3 linked regions of the Homo sapiens genome follow. The protein of the gene in region 1 purifies or fractionates together with the protein of each later gene. This does not show direct contact. Each region holds a gene or a part of one and is shown on either strand. Other genes may lie near its edges.

Evidence for each region. The genes of interacting proteins can lie anywhere in the genome.
Region 2: the proteins of SMARCD3 (region 1) and BCL7A purify together in Homo sapiens (affinity purification with mass spectrometry; 5 studies listed by BioGRID and IntAct, with this or other methods). This does not show direct contact.
Region 3: the proteins of SMARCD3 (region 1) and DPF2 purify together in Homo sapiens (affinity purification with mass spectrometry; 5 studies listed by BioGRID and IntAct, with this or other methods). This does not show direct contact.

The regions. Positions count from the first base shown.
Region 1 is NC_000007.14:151,245,688-151,253,456, forward strand, and holds the start of SMARCD3 (SWI/SNF-related matrix-associated actin-dependent regulator of chromatin subfamily D member 3), read right to left. Parts: upstream 3,008-7,769; 5' UTR 2,876-3,007; coding exon 2,798-2,875; intron 1-2,797. UniProt on the Homo sapiens protein: Involved in transcriptional activation and repression of select genes by chromatin remodeling (alteration of DNA-nucleosome topology).
Region 2 is NC_000012.12:122,017,699-122,024,890, forward strand, and holds the start of BCL7A (B-cell CLL/lymphoma 7 protein family member A), read left to right. Parts: upstream 1-4,185; 5' UTR 4,186-4,393; coding exon 4,394-4,485; intron 4,486-7,192.
Region 3 is NC_000011.10:65,329,036-65,336,858, forward strand, and holds the start of DPF2 (zinc finger protein ubi-d4), read left to right. Parts: upstream 1-4,816; 5' UTR 4,817-4,851; coding exon 4,852-4,883; exon of another isoform or gene 4,884-5,560; intron 5,561-7,823. UniProt on the Homo sapiens protein: Plays an active role in transcriptional regulation by binding modified histones H3 and H4. Is a negative regulator of myeloid differentiation of hematopoietic progenitor cells. Might also have a role in the development and maturation of lymphoid cells.

The DNA of each region.
Region 1 (7,769 bases):
GTGAAGCAGAAACGGGCGCCCGTGGGTCAGACCAGGGCCCCCCGCTCCAGGCGCGGTGAGCCGGCGTCTCCCCTCCCCCACCAGACCCTCGGCTGGTGACCCTGAGCGTTGAGCGATGGGTGGGAGCGATGGGTAGGAGGGGCAGGGGCGCCGGAATCTGCGCGGCTCTGGCGGAGGGGCTTGGCGTCTGGCTGCAGGAAGCTAACTGAAGCCAGGCACCGCACAGGGCATTGCGAGCCTCGGGGCTGCGGAAGGTACCGCAAAAATGAATATTAATGGCGCCTTTCAACCTTTCAAAGATGTTCACATCCACATGCTCCTCTGCAAGACAGCCTGAGCAGGTCCTTTCATCCCCACTTGACGGATGGGGCCACTGTGGCTCAAGGAGAAAAATGACCTCGCCAAGGTCACACAGCTCATCCTGGCCCAGGCAGCCCCTGAAGGGCTGCCTCCTGGGGGCCCAGGGCTTTGCTCTCTGCGGCTTGGTTGAGGTCCGGTACCCGGCTCCCTGCTCCGACTTCTGCTCCTCCTCCTGCTCCTCCTTCTCAGGCTCCACTTCTTGGGCGGTTCTGCCTGGTACTCACTAGCTCATCTCAGCCACTCTGCTCCCTGTGTCCCTGCTTTTGACCCTTGGGTCCCAAACCCCACTCCCCTCGGCTGACTCCAAGTCCCCACATCCAGGGTCTTCGCTGACCAAGCTGCCCCCATAATTTGCTCCCAGGGTGAGGGCTGGAGGCAGGGCAGGCAAGGGCAGCCTGCTGGGGCGCCCCAGACACAGCCAGGATTCTCTGATTGGGAGGAGGGGAACTGCGTTAGAGGTGGGCTGCCCAGGGGGGCCTGGGGTGGGTCAGGGCAGTGACACTTGCACTCACATTTCCCTTCCTGTCTGCCCAGGTCAGCAGCCACCTCCTCCTCTTCCCATCCCCACCCCAGTGAGGTCAGCAGTCAGGGTTCATGGGGGCTGTGGAGACTGAGAGGAGGCGGCTCCTCCTCCCTTGCCACTACCCCTGGGTGGTCAGATGGGGTGTAAATGAGATGCAAATGCATCGAGCGAAGTGTTCCAAACCCCACTTGTCCAGACTCCAGAAGGGAGATGGGGAGGGCCAGAGAGAGTTTCAGGGGCTGTGAAACAGAAAGAGCGGGGTGGGATGGGGACTGGGACCACGAAAGCAGGAAGAAGATCAGAGGGCAGGGGATGCAGACCCTGGCACTGTTAACATGGACACACCACCCACCTCACCCCCAGGCATGAGGAGGGGCCCCCTTGGGCTTGCTGTTTTCCTTCCAACTGCTACCTCTCCCTCCTGGTCCTCCAGGCTCTGTGTCTAACCCTAATGTCCTCCCACCCTCGGTCAGCAGCTGTCTCTGCCTATCTCTCCTGCAGTGAAACCTGCCTGTCCATGTGTCTGCTTCCCTCACCCCACCTGACCCTGTCACTCAGGCCTCCAGGGTAGCAGCCCAGAATGGAGCCCAGGCCTGGCCACCAGCTAGGTGGGGCACTGGGGCTCACAGCCACTCAAGAACTGAAGCTGTAAGTTGACCAGATTAAAAAAACAGTCCACGTGTACAGCCTCTCCCCACTAGATGGGCCTTTTTAAAGGGGCTCCCACCAGCAGCCAGGTTAGGACTGGTAACTCAGCTAGCTGACATGGACACCTTGGGAAGTTACCCCCAGGGGTCCCTGGGGCTGGAGGACAGGCCACTCCAGGGAGTCCCCCTCTTCCTGTCAGCTGCTCTCCCCAGTTATCAAGGCCAGGGATACTGGCCCATCTGCTGAAGAGGCCCTGAGAGGGAGGCTTTCAGAGCCCCCAGAGAGCTGTGCCCGCCACCAGCCCCATCCCCATGAAAGGCCAAAATCCTAGGGACTCTGGCCTTACTGAGAGGGTGTCTTCCTTGGGGTCACAACCAAATTTGGCCATAGTAAACCCGACAGCTTCCTCTACACAGGGCCTCCACTCCCTCACCCATCCCAAGAGTCGCAGCCCCTGCTTCTCCCATTCCCCACCCCTCCATACCCCTCCCAGCCGGGCCCTACTGACTCAGCTCCAGCCTCCCGGGCTCCCACGTGCCTTCACAGCCTGCCTGTGGCAGGACAGTGCTCCCCTGTCCCTTCGGTCTCTAGGCCTCATGTCCCCAACTCCAGCCCCTTCCTTCACATGTTCGAGGAGTTAAGGACATCAGCTTCTGGTGGCTGAGTCCGCCAAGGAGACCCTCAGAGCCCCTAACTTGGGCTAAGTCCCTAGAGCGGTCCTCTCCCCCACCCTAAGGCAGAAGCTCCAGAGCCCTCCCGCTGGGATGCAGAGGTGGCTCAGCCTGCGAGCTTCCCGCTACAGTGCCTCCAGGGTCACCTGCTCCTTGCTCCGGAGACACAAGCAGTGACACTGTCCCAACGGATGAACAGACAGCCCAGCCCAGCCTCTGCCATGTCCCCATCCCCCACCCCCACCCCCAGGGCAGGGGCAACACCTGGGCCCACAAGGAAAAGAACGAAAGTCAACCTGTCGGCTACAGCGAGGACCCCCTACTTGGGGGGTAGAGTCCCCAAGTCCCACCCCCGCCCCTGACAAGAGCCATGCAAACGCCTCCCTTCCCCGCCTCGCGTCAGACCCGGCCGGCCGCCTGGCGACGTGTTCGGGTGCCAGGGCGCCAGCACAGTCCCGCGGCCGGGCCGTGGGCCATGACGCCCCCCACTAGAGGGGTGGGAGAGCGGGAGCGCCCTCCCGGCCCCTCCCGATCAGCCCTCCATTCAGCCCGAGCCAGCTCGCTTGCCCTCCCCCGCTAACTTTCCCCCACTCACCACCCCATGGACCAGAAACTCAAAAAGTTTGCTTTTCGTGGCTTTGCGCGCCCCTCCGGCAACTTCGTCCGCGGCCATCGGGGTGGGCTCAGCGGCTCCTCTCACTCTCTCTCTCTCTTCCTCTTTCTTTCCCTTTTCTGCCTTTTTTTTTCCTCCAACTCTCCCCTCTGAGTCCTGCTGGGCTCTCTCACACTTCTACTCGAGCGGAGTGGGGAGGGGGCCCCTTCAGGGCTGCCCTGACGGCCCACGGCCCACGCCGCCGCCGCCCGCCCGCCGCCGCCGCCGCCGCCGCGGCTGCCGCATTCCTGCACTGATAAGACAGAAATAGTCCGGCGGCCCGGGGTCTGCCTGTTGACTCGGCGGGGACGGGGCCGCCTGCCTTTCCAAGCCCGCTGTCCAAACAGCGCAGATAAGCGGCGAGGCGCGCCGACCAGCCCGGCCGCGGGCGCTGGGCAGCAGTGCTGCAGCCCGAAGCCGCCGAGGCCCGCGGGAGGCGGCGCGGGGAGGGGACGCCAGGGGAGGCGGCGGGGGGTCGCCGGCCACCGGCTCTCGCCACAAATAGTTTCTCCGTCAGGGAATTCGCCGGCCGCGCCAGGCAGGGAACAGTCAGTTCCAACTTTTCCCCCAGCGGCTCCTGCTGCATTTCTGAGGCCCTTTCCCCAGAGACCTGGCAGGCCGAGCAGGGAAACATTCGCTGGCAGGAACCGGGGGAGCCCGGCCCGCGAGGCCTCGCGCCTGCCCGGGGCCGGCGGCGGTGGGTGTGCCCGGGCGGCGGCGTGGCCCTGCGTCCACTGCTGTGTGTGCCCTTGTCTCACACGCCGTGTGTGTCCGCGCCCTTTTGTGGCGTGGCAGCTTATGTGCGTGCAGACAGACGCCCTGTATGTGTGCCTCCCTCCACGACAGCCTCCGTGCGCGCGCGCCTGCGTGTGTGGCAGGACATGGCCTGTGCCTTTCAGCTCTGTGAGAGGCTATTTCTGGGTATGTGAGTCTTTGTTTGCCGCTCTGTGAGAAAGTGAGGGCAATAGGGGAAGTATTTCAGAAAGAGGGACAGGGATTGTGCTCATGAGAACAGGAAGAGAATGAATGTGGGGAATGGCGCAGCGCCAGGGGGGTGCTCGGGTGGGTGCGTGGAGAGAACGAGGCAAGCTGGGCTTGGTTTCCTTGGGGTGGGGGTGGAGTGGGGTTAGGGGACCCAGAGGAGTTGGGGCAGCTGGGCTGGGTATAGTGGGTATATTGGGCCGGCCTCAAGACCCCAAAGAGAGGGGTCTTGAGGCTGGGGTGTGGCGTGGGGTGGCAAGGGAGCCCCAGAAGGGGCGTGTGGAAGGAGTTGGCAGTCCCTGGAGTGGAGGAGGGACCGGAAGGAGGAGGGGCAAATCCTGACATACCCAGGCAGGGAGTCCTGGGCCTACCCAGGTCCCCAAAGGCCACGCCCCTTTTTTCTCCTTCTTGGGGAGGAGCCGTGGGCTTTGGAACAAGGCCCTTGGGTCAAGTTTGGGGGTCTGCTGGGGCCTCACTGTGAGAATCCAGGTGAGGGCAGGACCATAGCCTAGTGCCTAGGGGAGTTTGTTGAAACACTTACTTGAAGTTGGGCCCTGAAGACTGAAGGGTACTGACCCTAAACCCTTCAGAATGCCTTTGCCCAGGGGGTCCTTTCTGCCTGCAGCCTGATTTCTGCTGGCCCTGGTTGTGCTCTTGGCTGTCACTGTTCATTTAGGTGCCCACTGTCAATCTGAAATGTCAGGGAGGACATCTGGTCCAGGTTGCTCCTCCACCACCCCTAGCTTGAAAGGGGACCTAGAGATCCCCTTGCTACCAAATCTCTCCCAGGGCTTTAGCCTAGACTACCCCCCACACACCCCCACACACAGAGCCTGGGCCCTGACACGGTGGGGATGGGTGGGTGGCCTGCCTCTGTCTGCCATAGGTCATGCTGCTGGGAACCTGGGGAAGTGACTTGCCCAGTCTGCCTGCTAACCTCCAGAATCCCCGCTCACTCCCATTTCTTAGCCCCTGCCCCCGATTCTTTTACCTGGAATGCCCTTTGCCTGCCCTCTGCCTTCCCTCTGCTTGTCCAAATCACACCTATTCTTTAAAGCCCAGCCCAGGCCCCACTTCCTCCAGGAAGCCTTCCTTCGTCCTACTTGTATGCAAAGATTTTTCTCTTCTCCAAATGCTCATTGCCATCTACCCAGCACCATGAATTGGCATTGGACTGGCCTGACGTGCACTGTGCTTCAAGGACATTAGCTTTGCTTTCCCAGAGAGGCTAAGGTCCCCATAAGGTCAGAGACTGATCTTTAACTCCCACTCTTCCTCCATGCCTGGGCACAGGAACTCAACAGTACCCCAGATACCTGATGCTTGCAAAGCTTAATGAGCCAATGCATGGAGCTGGTACTCTGCCATTTACCTGATGGTGTGAGTTACCATGGGCACCCCCACCCACCATGGGTGCGTCTAGCAGGGGCATGGGAAACCACAGGCCTTGGAGGTTCTGGGGGTTGGAGATAGACACCCCTAGGCTTTGTTAAAGCTCAGTGTTCTCAACTATTGGAGAGACCTTTTGGGAAAAGAAGACAGCAGAGGAGATGCTGGGCACTCCAGTTTGGGTAGCTGGGAAGTTTGAGGCAGGGCCTGGGAGATCCCGGGCTTGGTCTTGGTGGTGGAAGAGGTTGCGGGAGGTAGTTAGACGAGGGGCTATGGTGAAGCCCCTGTGGAGGAGCTGGTGAGCTTCACCCAAGTCCATACATAAGCGCTCTCCTGAGCCACCCCTCTGGGAGACATCCTTAAGTGTACACAGACAATAGATACACCTTGCACACACACCCTCCCAACACACACACAGCAGGCACACCAATACAAGCACCAAAAGGTCGAGGAAGCCACATGGCTCTGCACACACAGGCACACCTTGAGCACCTCCACATCCCGTGGTGGGCCCCATTCACAAGGCAGGCCCAGACACATTTGCGTACTGCTTTTAGGTGGGCGACAGGAGGAGCCTTCAGACCAGAAAGCTGGGGCGGCGCCAGTGTGGGGGCCCGGGCCAGGGCTCCCTCCTCACAAAGGCCAGGATCCCCAGTGGCTTAACCCCAGAAGGGCGCTCGGTGTGCCACGCCGCCGATGGCTCCTGCGGGTGGGAAGGAGGCCCGGGAAGAGCGTGGATTCCTCCCAGCGCAATAGGGCGCCCGCCGCACTTGGGGCAGGCCGTGCGCCTGTCGGGGGCGAGGGCGGCCGCCCGGCGCCCGGCGCCGCAGTCCCCCCTGCCGTCCCCCCATCGCTCCTTCCCTCGCTGAAGCACCACCAGCACCAAATGGCAAAGCGCCGCTCCCCGCGCAGGGAGAGATGCGCCGCGGCCTGCGGGACGGGCTCGGCCGCCTCGCCCCCACCGCGCCCGAGCGAGCGGGCGGCGGCCGGGGAGCTGGGGGGGCTCGGGCCGGCCCGGCCCGCGCCGCCCCTCCCTCCGCCCGCGCCGGTCCCCGGCCTGGGCATGCGCGCCGCGGCCTCCCTCCCGGTGAAGGTCAGCCCGGGGCCCAGCTGCAGGACTCCGCGGCGGCCGGGGAGGCGGCGGAGGGAGGAGGGATGCGGGGAAGAGACTTAACTCCTTCCCTGCGGGAAGATGGCCACCTAGGCCGGGCCCCAGCCGCAGTCCCGCCCTCCTGCCCTCCGTGAAGGTCCCACCACGGGGACTCCGCTCGGGGGGCGCGGCAGGAGGAGCAGGAGAGCGGGGAACATGGAAGAAGGGGCTGGAAGGAGAGAAGAGAAGCTGGCGAGGGGATAGGGAGGAAGGGAAGGGAGGAACAAAGGAAGCGAGACTGGAGGGAGAACGGATTGCTTGGGAGAGAGCTCTTTCCTCTATTCCCTTTTCCCTACACCCCCAGCAATAAAGCTCTCCTTAGGAGAATACGATCACCCTCACTGGGGCGGCCTGAGTGAGTGTGTGTGTGTGTGTGTGTGAGAGAGAGAGAGAGCGAGAGAACGCGAGAGGAGAGGGAGAGAGAGAAAGAAAGAGAGAGGGAGAAAGTGAGACCACTTGGCGCTGTGAGGACCACAAAGCCTTGGTTTCGGTGTTCTGGCCATCTCTAAACCAGGCCCCACTTTCCGCCATCCAGCCTACCTGCCCGGGCTAAGCACCAGCCTCGGGGGACCTCTGGCTAGTCCTTGGGGTCACGCCCAGCTCCAGAGAGGGAGGAGGGGAGACTACCTCAACCCCCGCCTCTGGTGACGGTCAGCAGAGGGGACGCTCCGAAGCCAGGCCAGGGGCATCAGGCACCTTCCTCCTCCTCCTCCTGGCTGCCCCCATGCTGCTTCCAGGCCAGGGCAGCTGTGCGCTTCCCTGTTTGTGTTGGGATGTTTCTGTACCCCCGACACTCTCTGCTGCTATCAAGGGGGCTGTCTCTCTGTGTGACTTTGTCTTTCTGTGTCACTTTTGCAAACATACACGAAAGAGACAAATGCAATATATAGAAGCAAAAAACAAAGAAAAACTAGGACACCAAAATAATGGTGCGACCTTGGGCAAGTCGCTGTACCTCCCTGTCCCTCAGTGTCCTCAGAAGTGAAAGGAGAGGCTTAAGTCAGAGCATTCCTAGAGCCCTTCCAGCTCTGAAATCCAAGAATTTCCTAAGACAGAGGCAGGAACCAAGGCAGACTGGGAGGAAGGAGGGGGACAGAGGGAGGGAGCAGAGCGACGGAGCTGTGCCGGGAAGCAGACCCGCACCGAGTGAGTGGGGGCTGCTCACCATGAGTGAGGCCTGGTCCCAGCTCAGCACCCCCTCCTCTATGGGGTCCTCAGGGACGCGGCCCTCCCACTCACTCCCTCCGTCCTCCCCTCAGAGTAGCTCTCTCTGGGTGGCTCTGCCCCTGTCACGCACACCTGGCTGAGCCCTCACCCCTACACCTTCAGCATCCAGACAGCAGGGTGGGCCTTACCTTGGGGTCCCCAGGGTCCTGTGTGGCAGGCAGGTGCATG
Region 2 (7,192 bases), on another chromosome or scaffold:
AGAGAATGGTGTGAACCCAGAAGGCGGAGCTTGCAGTGAGCCGAGATTGTGCCACTGCACTCCAGCCTGGGCAACAGAGCGAGACTCCGTTTCAAAAAAAAAAAAAAAAAAAAAGGCTGGGCGCGGTGGCTCATGCCTGTAATCCCAGCACTTTGGGAGGCTGAGGTGGGCAGATCACGAGGTCGGGAGATCGAGACCATCCTGGCTAACACGGTGAAACCCCGTCTCTACTAAAAATACAAAAAATTAGCCAGGCGTGGTGGCGGGCGCCTGTAGTCCCAGCTACTTGGGAGGTTGAGGCAGGAAAATGGTGTGAACCCAGGAGGCGGAGCTTGCAGTGAGCTGAGATCACGTCACTGCACTCTAGCCTAGGTGACAGAGCAAGACTCCGTCTCAATCAAAAAAAGGCCAGAAAATTAAAATCCACGACTCACACTAAGCGGGAGTCCTTTCCCACGATAATCTGGGCCCTGTCGGACTCCACCAATGGTATGCTGGTAAATGTTCAACCACCAGCTCTGGCTGGGGCTGGGGAAGGAGGGTCCTGATGTATAAATCATTTGCCGATTTCCATGGTGTAAATACTCCCTCCACAGCTGATTCCAAACTCTCAGCATGAGGTCACTAAACACAGAGCTGGGAAGCAGAAGCCTGTAAACCATCTGCAGCACATCCCTGGCTCCACCCTCAGACTACAAGAAGTCAACCAGTCTTGCACAACTATGCGGCCAGGATTCGCATCACCTGAGTGGTCGGGGGCTCACAAACCCTGAACTAGGATTGAGGTCACCCCAGACTAGCAGTGACCTGAGGGGCCTGGCAGAAGCAAATATAAATTATTTCTAGGGGGAGGCCTCAAATTATCCCTATGAATAAATTTTAAAATAGTGTCCAGCATGGTCAAAGAGAACCAGGCATATAACAAGGAACTATGACACCATGAGCAAGACCTAGCAGAAACAGACTCTTGGAGACTTCAAATACTAGAATCATCAGACACAGGCTGTAAAACTACTGTGCTTTGTTGAAAGAAAGAAGTGTAAAAATACCTGCAGGAGACAGGAAACTACTAAAAGTGACATACTAGATTTACAAAGGACATTTGAAGAAAGCTTTATGGTTTTATTGGGGATCAAAATCACAAATACTTTCAGGGGCCAGACAGGTAACACAAATGAGTAAAGTGGCTATGAGTGCACTGGTGACCCAGATAACTCTGTCTGAAAGATACAGACAGAGCTCTCTGCTCTAGCCGATGGGTGCCATGTGGCACTGAGGGTCCAGTTTGCAGATCTGCTGGTTCTAGAGAAGCTGGGTATTTTTTTTTTTCCTTCCTTCCTTCCTCCCTCCCTCCTTCCCTCTTTTTCTTCCTTCTTCCTTCCCTCCCTCTCTCCTTCTCCTCATCCCTCTCTCTTTTCTTCTTTCTTTCTTTCGTTCTTTCTTTTCTCTCTCTCTCTCTCTCTCTCTCTTTCTTTGCTTCATGCAGTGGCATGATCTTGGCTCACTGCAGCCTCTACGTTCTGGGCTCAAGCCATCTTCCCCACCTCAGCCTCCTGAGCAGCTGGGGCTGCAGATGCGCACAACCACACCTGGCTATTTTTTGAATTTTTTGTAGAGATGGGGTTTCACCATGTTGCCCAGGCTGGTCTCAAACTCCTGGCCTCTAGCAGTCCACCCACCTCGGCCTCCCAAAGTGCTGGAATCACAGATGTGAGCCACCGCGCCCAGCCTAGATTTCTTTTTATTATGATCAAATACACATAAAATTGACCATTGTAACCATTTAAAAGTGTACAATTCAGCGTCATTAAGTACATTCACATTGTTCTGCAACCATCACCACTATCTCATTCCAGAACTTTCCTATCACTCCGAAAGGAAACCCCACATCCGTTAGCAGTCACTCCTGCTCTCCCTCCCCCTTGCCTCTGGCAACCACCAATCTGATATCTGTCTTTATGGATTCGCCTAGTTGTAGATATCTCCCGCAAATGGACTTACGCATATTTATCCTTTTGTGACTGGCTTCTTTCACTTAGCGTGTTTCAAGGTTCACCCATGTTGTAGCATGTATTCATTCCCTTTTATGGCTGAATAATATTCCATTGTGTGGATAGACACATTTATCTGTTCCTCAGTCACTATTTGAATTCTGACATAATATTTTCCTATTTTAAATTTTAAGATACATTTTTTTAAAGTTTCATGTGGCCCAAAGCACATACCTATTGATCTCACATATCTCTGTGAGATCTGTTTTATGACCTGCTGTTGCATATTTTCCCAGAAAATTCTCGGAACGATTCTCTGAAGTCCTTCTTTCTCTTTCTCTTTTTTTTCTTTTTCTTTCTCTCTTTCTTTTTTTGTTTTGTTTTGTTTTATTTTGTTTTGTTTTGTTTTTTTGAGATTCAGTTTTGCTCTGTTGCCCAGGCTGGAGTGCAATGGCATGATCATTGCACCTCTGCCTCCCAGGTTCAAGCATTTTCCTGCCTCAGCCTCCCGCGTAGCTCAGATTACAGGCCTGCACCACCACGCCCAGCTAATTTTTGTATTTTTAGTAGAGACAGGGTTTCTCCATGTTGGCCAGGCTGGTCTCGAACTCCTGACCTCGTGATCTGCCCACTTCGGCCTCCAAAGTGCTGGGATTACAGGCATGAACCACCGCGCCCGGCCTTTTTTTTTTTTCTGAGACAGGGTCTCACTCTGTCTCCCAGGCTGGAGTGCAGTGGCTGGATCTCTGCTCACTGCAACCTCCGTCTCCCAGGTTCAAGCGAGTCTCCTGCCTCAGACTCCCGAGTAGCTGCGATTACAGGAGCCCACCACCGCGCCCGGCTAATTTTTGTATTTTTAGTAGAGACGGGGTTTCACCCACCATGTTGGCCAGGCTGGTATCGAACTCTTAACCTCAAGTGATCCACCCGCCTCGGCCTCCCAAAGTGCTGGTATTACAGGCATGAGCCACCGCGCCCGGCCAGTATTTGTTCTTTTCTTCATTTTTCACGTCAGGAGACTGCGTTTCAGAATAGTAAAAACAAATGCCTAGGAAAAGGCCTGCGGTCTCTCCATTTCCACAGTAGCGTGTTCCCCAAAGACCAAACCCTCAGGGGAAACGTCTAGAATGAGTAACAACTTAAGGCTGCAACCTTAAACTTTCCCAGGACTCAGTTTCCCCAGCTGTGAAATGGCTGCTGTCGGGCTGTCATCTCCAGGCCCGGGGCGCTGACATTTGGGCCACTCTCGGTCTCCCTCTTCATTCTGGGCGCGCATTAGCTCTGGTCCGGCCGGTTCCGCTGCAGCTGAACAGCAAGATGCGGCACCCAGGTTACCCTGATCATCGCAGATTTCTCCCCGGGGCTCTGTTCTGAGGCCTCAAAAGTGCTCCTTGTAGATGGGACCAGGGGTCATTTGGGCAGTAGCAGCGCCTGGTCTCAGTCTGGTACTGAAGTCAGGAATGGCTTAAGGTGAAATCGTGGTCCTCTGGTGAAGCTCAGCGAAGACCCCCTCGCCTTGTTTATGACAAGAGAACTTCTGGGGGCGGGAGGAAGAGTCCCTGTTACGATGCTGATCATCATTGAGCTTTTGCTGAGCAGAAAACTCTTTAGTACTCAAGGTCGAGAGTCTCTGGTGGTCTGCCTGGCACCAGGCACCTTCCTACAACCCTAGTTTTCCAAAAGGACAAAGCCTGGGGCAGGCGACGTCCTAGCTCGCATTTGAACAGGGCCGCGGGCCAGCAGAGATGCGCGATGCCCAACTCTTTCCAAGAGCACCTCGCGTCCCGAACCGGTGCCTTCAACTCGGAGAAGTCAAGAGACCCGCAAGAAACTTGCACGACTGCACCCGCCGCCGCGCTCTGGGGGCTGGGCAGGGGCAGCTGGGCTGGCTCCCGGGGAACGCGACCCCCCCGCGCCCCGCAGACCGGCTGTCTCCCATGGACCCCTCGGCACCTGCAGCCTCCGAGGAAGGGTCAGCGCGCGTGTCCGCACGCCCGCCCCCACCGCGCGCCCAGAGCCGGGGGTCGCCGTGCGCCCTTCGCCACCTCCCCAGGAGGGCGTCCGGGGCGTCCCCTCTGGGGGCGCAGGAGGCCCGGGGGCGCTGCCCGGTGGCCGCGGCGCCCGGAGGCCGCACTGCCGGCGGCGGCGGCGGCGCGGCTCCCCCTGCTCTGTGCAGCTGCCGCCCGGCGCTTGCGCACTGGGCCAGGCGCGCGGCGGCCCCGGGCTTTGTGTGTGTGTGTATGTGTGTGTGTGTGTGTGTGTGTGTGTGAGTGTGTGCGTGTGAGAGTGCGAGTGTCTGTGCGCGAGTGAGTGAGCGGCGGGCGGGCGCGAGTGTGGCCGCCGCGGAGCGCGAGCAGGACCCGGCGGGCGCGCTCCCCAGCCTCCGTCTCCCCGCCGGAACCATGTCGGGCAGGTCGGTTCGAGCCGAGACGAGGAGCCGGGCCAAAGATGATATCAAGAGGGTCATGGCGGCGATCGAGAAAGTGCGCAAATGGTAAGCGGAGGCGCCCGCCGCCAGCCGCCTCCCCGGCCGCCCCGAGCCCGAGCGCGGCTCCAGAGAGCCGCGGGGCGCAGCGCCCCGGCCGCCTGCCCCGGCCCAGCCCCGCCGCGGGCCCCGGGACTTGGCGAGGGCGGGCGGACGGGCGGGCGGCGCGCGAGCCGGGTCACCTGCGCCAGGCTGGGGCCGCGGCCGCTGCCCAGGTGCGCTCGCGCCTGTAGCCCACCTGGCGCGGCGGCCCGGAGGCGGCGGGCGCCGGGGCCAGGCGGTTGGAGCGGCGGGGCGGCCCCCGCCGCGGCGCTCGGCTCCCGGGAGGGGGGCTCGGGGCCGGCCCCAGAAGCCATTTCGTTTTGTGCAAGTCACATGAAAGCGGCTTCCCGCGCGCCGGGGCCGCGATGCCGGCGGCGGCGGGGAGAGCGCGAGCTCCATTGTGCAGGCTCCGAGCGGGCCGCCGCCGCCGTCTCCTCCCCGCGCACCCCGGCCCGCGCCCCGCCGCCCTCCGCCAGCCCCGGCCCGCCCGGCCGCCCGCTCCCGCCTCCCGGGCCCGGCGCCCTCGAGTCTGCGGAGTTTGCAGAGCGCGAGCCGTTTAAATTTAGCGCTTTGGGCTGCCTGGAGCGAGGGCTCTCGGCGACCAGGAAAGATGGGGGCGAGCGCTGGGAGCCAGCGGCCAGGGGCGCGGGGCGCCCACGTCCCACCCCGCTCTGCGCGGCGCCCCGGGCGGGGGGCTCGGGCCAGCCGATGTTTTTGGCCAGAAGCCGTTCGTCCTGGGCCGCGGCTGCCTCTCCACACCGGGAGCTCGTGTTTGTTTTGCGGAGGGAGCTGTTGTTTTTGTTCTCTGCACCGGGGAGAGGGGGACTTGGTGGCGGCCGCGCGTGGTTTTCGGGATCACATTAGCGTCCGCCCGGCGTGGCCCGGTCGACATTAAGGGGATCGAACCTTTCCGCGGCCTCGTCGGGGTCTGCTCGGAATCGGCCCCTGGGCCAGGCCCGAGGCGCAAGCAGATCGCCAGGTTGGGTCAGAGTTGTTGAAAACTCCCCGCTGCCTGATTTCAACTTTATTATTTTTTTCCCACGCCTTCACTGGGGTCCCGGAGGGAGAGGAGCCGCCGCAACGCTGGCTCTGAGTGTCAGCGCCCGCGGGCTCGTCTCGACCCTTTATTTCGAGCCTGGAAGCTGGGCAGGCCCTGTGGCAGGGGATGTTTACGTTTGGGGGTGTCGTTTCTCGAGTAGCGCCTCGGTCTCTAAAAGCCACTGGGGGCGAGCCTCCGGTGTGGCGGTGTCACAAGTTAGCTGTCCTTTCTGAGTCAAACCCAACAAAAAAGGCAAGAGGAAAATCAATAAAGTCCACGTGCTCCCCGGCCTCCTATGGAAAGGGCTGGCTGCGATGGCCGGATGCCCGGCCGTGGGCTGGGTTTGGCTCCAGTGGGACAAAGAATTTTCAGAACCGTGAGAAGGGGAGGCTTTCCAAAGTTGAGATCCAAGTCGTCGGTGTCTCGGGAGCTCCCCTGGTACACAGGGTGCCCGGTGCCCGACTGGAGCCATTTAAAAATGGCAGAAACAGCTGCAGGCCAACACACACACGCTGGAAAACAACCCGCAGCCCCCTCTACTGTGGGATTCCCCGCGGGAAGCCCGGAGTTGCTCCCCTCCTTGCCTCAGCCCCTGTGCAAAGAAAGAACTGGTGTCTGTGCCTGGGTCCCTTCTGTCGCCGGCCTGGAGGTTGGGAAACAGCCGGCAAGCCGCCTTTCTCTGCTCGAGGAGGCGTGGTGGGGCCTCCTACTCCAGGTTCCCGGCTGGACAGAGGCTCCTGCACCCTGACAGCTGCTCCCGCAGAGCGGCCAGCTGCTCTGCAGGGAGGGCAGATGGAGAGATGGGGCTTCCCACCCCGCGGGCCCCGGGGCGGCCGGCCTGGAGGCCTTCCAGCCCGCTGACCCCGCGGGGACCAGGCCTGTAGTTGGAGCTTGAGGGGCTGTACCTCTGCGCCTCCCTGGGTTTGGGGAAACAACACATCGTGTCCTCTGAAGACCTCAGGCTTTGGGATCTCATGGTCCAGCTTCCAGTTCACTTCGTTGCCGCGACCTTGGGCATATCATTGTCACTTCTCTAACCATGGTGACCCGGGGTTTTGTGCTTGGCTTCCAGGTCCCCTCGGGTTATTGAGGACGATTGAGGTCATGCCTCCGAGAGCACCGCGCCCTGGGCGCAGGAGGAGCTGTTGCTCAGTGTTGTCTGTGTTGTAAGGTGGACTTTGTAGAAACTTGGCTTTGAGGTTTTTTGTTTTTTTTTTTTTTTGGCCCCTTCTAAGCGAAAGCCTTGGACTTATTGCCCAGGTTTCTCTGGCCCCTGAGAAGCCATATCTCACCTTCCCCGCGCCTTCGGATTGGGTCTTAGACTCAGCCCATGAGACTGTGGGTTGTTTATTAATTGTGTGGTCACCAACCATGCATTTCACCACTGGTGGGGGGGTGGGGTTGCCAGGTTTAACCAGATAAAAATACAGCACACCCAGTTAAATTTGAATTTCAGATAAACAATGAAAGATTTTTTTAAAAATAAATGTTTTTGAGTATGTCTCATGCAATATTTGGGACACACTTATACTAAAACATTATCTAATTTATCTGAAATGCAAATTTAACAGGGCACCCTGTATTTTACCCAGAGGGAAGCCGAAGTGTTTGGCAGATCATTTGGCCCCATGAGCC
Region 3 (7,823 bases), on another chromosome or scaffold:
TACAGTACATTCCTTCAGGAAGGATGTTACTTGGTACCAAATATGCTTGCTTTTGTCAGGTAACTGGGAACATTTCAAAAATGGGTCCATCTTGGGCCAGGAGGGGTGGCTCACGCCTGTAATCCCAGCATTTTGGGAGGCCAAGGCTGGTGGATCATGAGGTCAGGAGTTCGAGACCATCCTGGCTAACATGGTGAAACCCCGTCTCTACTAAAAATATAAAAAATTAGCTGGGCATGGTTGCTCGTGCCTGTAGTCCCAGCTACTCAGGAGGCTGAGGCAGGAGAATTGCTTGAACCTGGGAGGCAGAGGCTTCAGTGAGCCGAGATCGTGCCACTGCACTCAGCCTGTGCGACAGAGACTCCGTCTCAGAAAAAAAAAAAAAGAAAAAAAAAATGGGTCCACCTTAATCCAAGTTCAAGGCTGAGCTTTCCTCTCCCCCTTTCCTGGACCAAACAGATAATAGGATTCTGAACTATAAGTCCATGGAAATTGATTTGTATCTTACAGCACATACGTGTCAGTAGTGGGGTATCTGACTTCCTACTTTGAGCAAGCTCTGGGTTTTTATTTTCGTCCCTCCCCACAAAGACTGCCAAACAACAGTTTAACTTCATGGTTATATCTTCCAGATCAGTAAATGCCTCCAGGACAAAAACTGCTTCAAAAGCTGAACTTACCTCTCTGGGTTTTAGCTTCCTCAATGTTGGCACAATAATTCTTCACTGTACTATTAGCTTTTCAATGCTTTTAAGATTTTTTTTTCACTTCCTCTTCTTTTTTTAATTTGTCTTCAGAGGGAAGGTTGGAATCAAGTATCTAATCAGGAGCCTATCTCCCCTTACCTACCCGAATAAAATATTAAGAGCCATCCCAGGGGAGTTCCTCGGATTTTTCTCCCTGCCCCCACTGGGTAATAGCAATCTTAAGCTTTACAATTGGAATTGATCGCCCCAGCCAACAGTGGGACCCGCTTTTTATTTTCTTGCCCAGTGGCATGTGGAGCGAAATATGGCCTACTGACGGACGATCTGATCGTGATTTAGAGAAACTTACTGCGCCCCCTGGTGGAAGCATTATTCCCTTGGGTCTTAAAAGCTCTAAATCAGCCAGAGCGCAGAGTTGAGATTCCAAGAATGTGCATGTAAAATTCCTACTCCGTGATTCCTGTCTGTCAGAGAAACACTATATATACTGTTTTCTATATAGAGAGAGTACCTGTTGTTCGGCGACGTAACATGTCTTTCTTTCTTTCTTTTTTTTTTTTTGAGACAGGGTCTTGCTCTGTCACCCAGGCTGGAGTACAGTGGAGCCATCTTGGCTCACTGCAAACTCCACCTCCTGGGTTCAAGCGATTCTCATGCCTTAGCCTCCCAAGTAGATGGGATTACAGGCACCACCACCACGCCCGGCTAACTTTTGTATTTTTTGTAGAGACTGGGTTTCACCATGTTGGCCTGGCTTGTCTCGAACTCCTGGCCTCAAGTGATCTGCCAGCCTCAGCCTCCCAAAGTGCTGGGATTACAGGCGTGAAACACCACGCCCAGCCCGTAACAGCATTATGTGTAATAGCTCCAAACTGGAAATAACCCAAATGCCCATCAGCAGTAATATGGATTAAACAGCAATGTAAGAACTATTACCACAAAAGGACATGAATGAATCTCAGCCAGGCATGGTGGTTCGCGCCTGTAATCCCAACACTTCAGGAGGCCAGAACGCAAGGAATGCTCAAGGCCAGCCTGGGCAACATAGTGAGACCCTGTCTCTATAAAAAAAAAAATCAAAAATTAGCTGGGCATGGTGGCGTGTGCCTATAGTCCCAGAGAGGCTGAGGTGGGAGGATTGCTTGAGTCAGGGATGTAGAGGTTGCAGTGAGCCAAGATTGTGCCACTGAGATTTTTTTTTTTTTTTTTTGAGACACTGTCTTTTTTTTTTTGAGACGGAGTTTTGCTCTATTGTCCAGGCTGGAGTGCAACGGCACAATCTCAGCTCACCACAACCTCCGCCTCCTGGGTTCAAGCAATGCTTCTGCCTCAGCCTCCCAAGTAGCTGAGATTACAGGCGCACACCACCACGCCCAGCTAATTTTTTTGTATTTTTAGTAGAGACGGGGTTTCACCATGTTGGTCAGGCTGGTCTCGAACTCCTGACCTCATGATCCACCCGCCTCGGCCTACCAAAGTGCTAGGATTACAGGCATGAGCCACCATGCCTGGCTGACGCTGTCTTAAAAAAAAAAAAAAAAAGATTAGTCAGGGTGTAGTGGTGTGCCTGTAGTCTCAGCTACTCGAGAAGCTGAGGTGGGAGAATTACTTAAGCCTGGGAGGTCGAAGCTGCAATGAGCCATGATTACACGACTGCACTCAGCCTGGATGACAAAGTAAGACCCTGTCTTAAAAAAAAAAAAAATCTCAAAAATGTAATACTGTAGACAAAGCATTGTGGGGGCTGAAAAAAAAAAGGAAAAAATTAATATTGAACAAAAGAAGCCAAATTCAAAATAGGACATATTGTATGATTCCATTGACATACAGTTACACAGACACACTAATCTTTAGGGCTAGAAGCATGAGATGGCTACTGAGGTGCTAGTGATGTCTTTTTCTTCATCTGGGTAGTGGTTACACAGGTTTGTCTATTTTGTAAAGATCAATCAAGCTACAATTATTTTGCATGGTATACCTGCATCAAACCATCTCGTGTACCCATAAATATATACACCTACGATGTACCCACAAAAATTAAAAAATTGAAAAAAATTAGTCAAGCTATGAACCCGGAAGGCGGAGGTTGCAGTGAGCCGAGATCACGCCATTGCACTCCAGCCTGGGCAACAAGAGGGAAACTCCGTCTCAAAAAAAAAAAAAAAAAAATTAGTCAAGCTACATAAGATCTATGTGCTTCTCTTTATGTATATTTCAATTAAAAGTTTGAATTTAAAAATAGTACTAATAATAAATAGGCTAGCTGCATATAATTGGAAAGGCAGCTTATGAACCCAGCATCAATAGCTTTCAGTTCTTTTAGGATTGTTTAAGAAAAGGTTACATCAGCTGGCCAGGCGTGGTAGCTCATGCCTGTAATCCCAGCACTTGAAAGCCTAGGCGGGCGGAACACATGAGGTCAGGAGTTCGAGACCAACCTGGCCAACGTGGTAAAACTCTGTCTCTACAAAAAATACAAAAATTAGCTGGGGGCACCTGTAATCCCAGCTACTCGGAAAGCTGAGGCAGGAGAATCACTTGAACCCAGGAGGTGGAGGTTGCAGTGAGCTGAGATAGTGCCACTGCACTCTAGCCTGGGCTGGAAGGAAGAATTTGTTAAGGAGCGACAAGAGCAAAACTCCGTCTCAAAATAAATAAATAAATAAATATAAACAAATAATGTTGTTACGAACATTCTTGTACAGCTTTATTTTTTTTTTTTTGAGACGGAGTCTCGCTCTGTCACCCAGGCTGGAGTGCAGTGGCGCGATCTTGGCTCACTGCAAACTCCGCCTCCCAGGTTCACGCCATTCTCCCACCTCAGCCTCTCCAGTAGCTGGGATTACAGGCGTCCGCCACCATGCCCGGCTAATTTTGTTTTTGTATTTTTAGTAGAGATGGGGTTTCACCATGTTAGCCAGGACGGTCTCGATCTCCTGACCTCGTGATCCGCCCACCGTGGCCTCCCAAAGTGCTGGTATTACAAGCGTGAACCAATGCTCCTGGCCTGTTTTTTTTTGTTTTTTTTTTTTAAGAGACAGGATCTTGCTATGTTGCCCAGGCTGGTCTTGAACCCCTGGGCTCAAGTGATTCTCCCACCTCACCCTCTCAAGTAGCTGGGATTACAGGCATGAGGCATTGCACTCAGCTTCTTGTACAGCTTTCTTGTGTGTATATCCAGGAGTGGACTTTGCTGGGTCATAGGGTATGTGTATTTTCAGCTTTAGTGATTATATTTATATATATATATATATATATACATATGTATATATATACATATGTATATATATGTGTATATATATATATGTATATATGTGTATATATATATGTGTATATATATATGTATATATATTTTTTTTCCTTTTTTTTTTTTTTTTTCTTGAGATGGAGCCTCGCTCTGTTGCCCAGGCTGGAGTGCAGTGATGTGGCTCCAGTGGCTCACTGGAGCCTCAAACTCCTGGGCTCAAGTGATCCTCCCACCTCAGCCTCCCTAGTAGCTGGGATTACAGGCATGCACCACCATGCCCAGCTAATCTTTTTTCTTTTTCTTTTTTTCCTTTATTTATTTATTTATTTATTGAGAAGGAGTCTCGCTCTGTCGCCCAGGCTGGAGTGCAGTGGCGCGATCTCGGCTCACTGCAAACTCCGCCTCCCGGGTTCACGCCATTCTCCTGCCTCAGCCTCCCGAGTAGCTGGGACTACAGGCGCTCGCCACCACACCCGGCTAATTTTTTGTATTTTTAGTAGAGACGGGGTTTCACCGTGTTAGCCAGGATGGTCTCCATGTCCTGACCTCGTGATCCGCCCGCCTCGGCCTCCCAAAGTGCTGGGATTACAGGCGTGAGCCACCGCGCCCGGCCCCGGCTCCTGCTCCTCTAAATATTAGAGGCAAGCCTCGAACCGGAGCTCCGGGATGCATGCCAATCTCCGGTTGCGCCTGCGCGTCGGGCTCCCGTGGGGTCCACGCATTTCCTACCCGGCCCCCGCGAACAGGCGTAAAGCTCTTTCTTCAGTGCTCGCTCTAGTGCGCGCGCCCGGACGGCGCCTGCGCAGAGGGCAAGGAACCTGGTACCCCGGTGCGGTCCCGGCGCCTGCGCGCTGCGGACTGTGGGGCTTCTCGGCCCGAGGCAGAGGAACAGGGAAGATGGCGGCTGTGGTGGAGAATGTAGTGAAGCTGTGAGTGGTCGTTTCTTTCTCTCCTAGGGCGGCAGGTTTTGTAAAGGGCCTGGGAGTAGGGGGCGGTGGGGGAAGGGACTAGGCGGAGAGAGGGACATCCCCGGGAAAGCCATGTTGCGACTCCTGGTGGGGAGGGCAACAGGAGACTCCGGAGAAGACGTTGCGCTTCTTTGGAAACTTGTGGAGGCCCTGGTGGGGGCACACTGGAGCCCCGACGGGCGGCATCCCTGCGGGGCTGTGTGGCCTCAGCGTTCCTCGGGGCTGACGGTTTCCAGAGCATGGCGCCCTGCCTGCACGCGAGACTCACCGTCCCGGTCCTCTCCCGAGACGCCTCAGTCCGGAGGAGCGGGGCCGAGGCCCGGGCGGCCCTACGGCTGGCCCGCCGCCCACCCCGCCCCGTCCCGTCCCGTTCGCTGCAGCAACAGGCTCGGCGGCCCCTGCGGAGTGCACTGCGGGGCTGGCTGTTTCAGTTCCAGGCAGCCCCGTGATGTTTGGGAGGATCTTGGGTGGCAGGTACCTAAGACTACAAATATTCTTGGGAAGAATTTATCGAGGAGCGGATCCAGAAGGGAAGGAACTTCAGGGGAGTGGGCCTTGGCCCCGTCCAGTAGCAGCCATCAAAAACCTGCAACTGGACCGAAGCCGTTCAGGACAGCTTAGCCTAAAGGGGCATCTAGGTGGGCATTCTTCCTATTATACGATACCATTGTGCTGGTCAGATTTCAAGCAAAGTTAAAGTTAATAGCTGTTGGGGCCATGGACGCTGGCCTATGAACTGCTTCCTGTGAGTTAAAGATGCTTTGGGACTTGATTTATTCCTACAGAAGAATCAGAATGAGTTTTAGATTGGGTTAATGCATGGTGGGCGAATAGAGCTTCTTTTAATGGGTATGTTGGGCTTGGTGCAAGGGTGGGAAAATTGAGTGGTGTCTAGCTGTCCAGTCAGGGTTTTTGCATTTTGACTGGATGACGAGGTAAAGGTTCGGTAACTCTTCTAAGGGACTCACAGCTTCTCATCTGTCTTTGTCGTGGCCTGAGCCCCACTCTTCCTAAGAGCCTTTTTAAAGAGTAAGTTGCTTCTCCCTCCTGCCTGAAGCCTTTTCTTTGAGAATGCTTTCCCACTTCCATTAAGCTAAGTGCCTTTCCTCCTCTTGTGGTTTGTTTTTTTTTTTTTTAAGTTGCTTTCTGCTCTATCCTGCTGTCTCTTTCAGCCACCCCTCCTCCCAACGCTATTGTCTTTCTCTCTGATCTGCCCACTCCAGTTTCCCCAGCTCTTTCTTCAGGCTGACATTTTTCTCAATTTAGAAATGACACTGTTGATCTACCATTTATCCAGTTATCCTTCCTGACTCAGATGTTCTTTCTTTGTTTCCCTGCGTCTTTGTTGACTTCCCTCATCCCATTGTAAGGGGATGTTTTACACAGGTTTCTCCAAAAATAAAAAGGAAGATTCTCATTGTACTGGGGGAGTATCAGACTTGCCTAGGTTTTGGGAGTTAAACGTAGTGAGGTTCTTCGTGTTGGAAGATTTTCCTCAGAGAAATAGGGTTGCCAGTGCTTTCAAGTTGTGTCATAAGTGAGGGGTTGCCCATTTAAACAGAGCGTGACATCTTGTTTCTCTTTGAAAAACTGTAGAGATTGTGAGCATCACCAGCCACTAATTCCTGAATGCCAGTAATGAGAAACCAACTCTCTCCTCCTCATTTCTAGCTGCACAGGGCCTCAGATCACAATTAATACGTACTCCCACAGAATTATCCCTTTAAGAAGGGGCTTCTATTCTTCCAGTTCATTTGGAGATATGGCACTTCTCTTGATTATAGTGTGCCTAGTCTTCTGACAGCTGATGTTATACATTGAGTACATTGAGGTCAGGACCACTAGCTCATCTTTTCTTTTTTTTTATTTTTTTAGACAGAGTCTCACTGTTGTCGGCCCGGGCTGGAATGCAGTGGCACGATCTTGGCTCACTGCAACCTCCGCCTCCCGGGTTCCAGCAATTCTCCTGCTTCAGCCTCCCGGGTAGCTGAGATTACAGGTGCCCACCACCACACCTGGCTAATTTTTGTGTTTTTAGTAGAGATGGGGTTTCACCATGTTGGCCAGGCTGGTCTTGAACTCCTGACCTCAGGAGTTCACCCGCCTCGGCCTCCCAAAGTGCTGGGATTATAGGCGTGAGCCACCACGCCCGGCCCCTCATCTTGTATGACTTGCATCTTGTCCTGGGAAAAGAATTTTCTTATTTGTAAATTTCTATCCCTTCCGAATGTGATGTCAGAAATGAAAGTCTTGGCTGGGTGCAGTGGCTTACGCCTATAATCCCAACACTTTGGGAGGTTGAGGCAGGCAGATTGCTTGAGGTCAGGAGTTTGAGACCAGCCTGGCCAACATGGTGAAACCTCATCTCTACTAAAACTATAAAAATTAGTTAGGTGTGGTGGCGCACACCTGTAGTCCCAGCTACTTGAGAGGCTGAGGCACAAGAATCGCCTGAACCCAGGCGGCAGAGGTTGAAGTGAGCTGATATCACACCACTGCCCTCCAGCCTGAGTGACACTTTTAAGACTCTTTCTTAAAAAAAAGAAAGAGGCTGTTGGGCGCGGTGGCTCATGCCTGTAATCCCAGCACTTTGGGAGTCCGAGGCGGGCAGATCACAAGGTCAGGAGATTGAGACCATCCTGGCCAACATGGCGAAACCCCACTCTACCAAAAATACAAAAATTAGCTGGGCATGGTGGCGTGTGTCTGTAATCCCAGCTACTCAGGACGCTGAGGGAAGGGAATCACTTGAATCCAGGAGGCAGAGGTTGCAGTGAGCCAAGATCGCACCACTGCACTCCAGCCTGGCAACAGCAAGACTCCATCTCAAAAAAAAAAAAAAAAAAAAAGAAGCCGGGCACGGTGGCTCATGCCTGTAATCCCAGCACTTTGGGAGGCTGA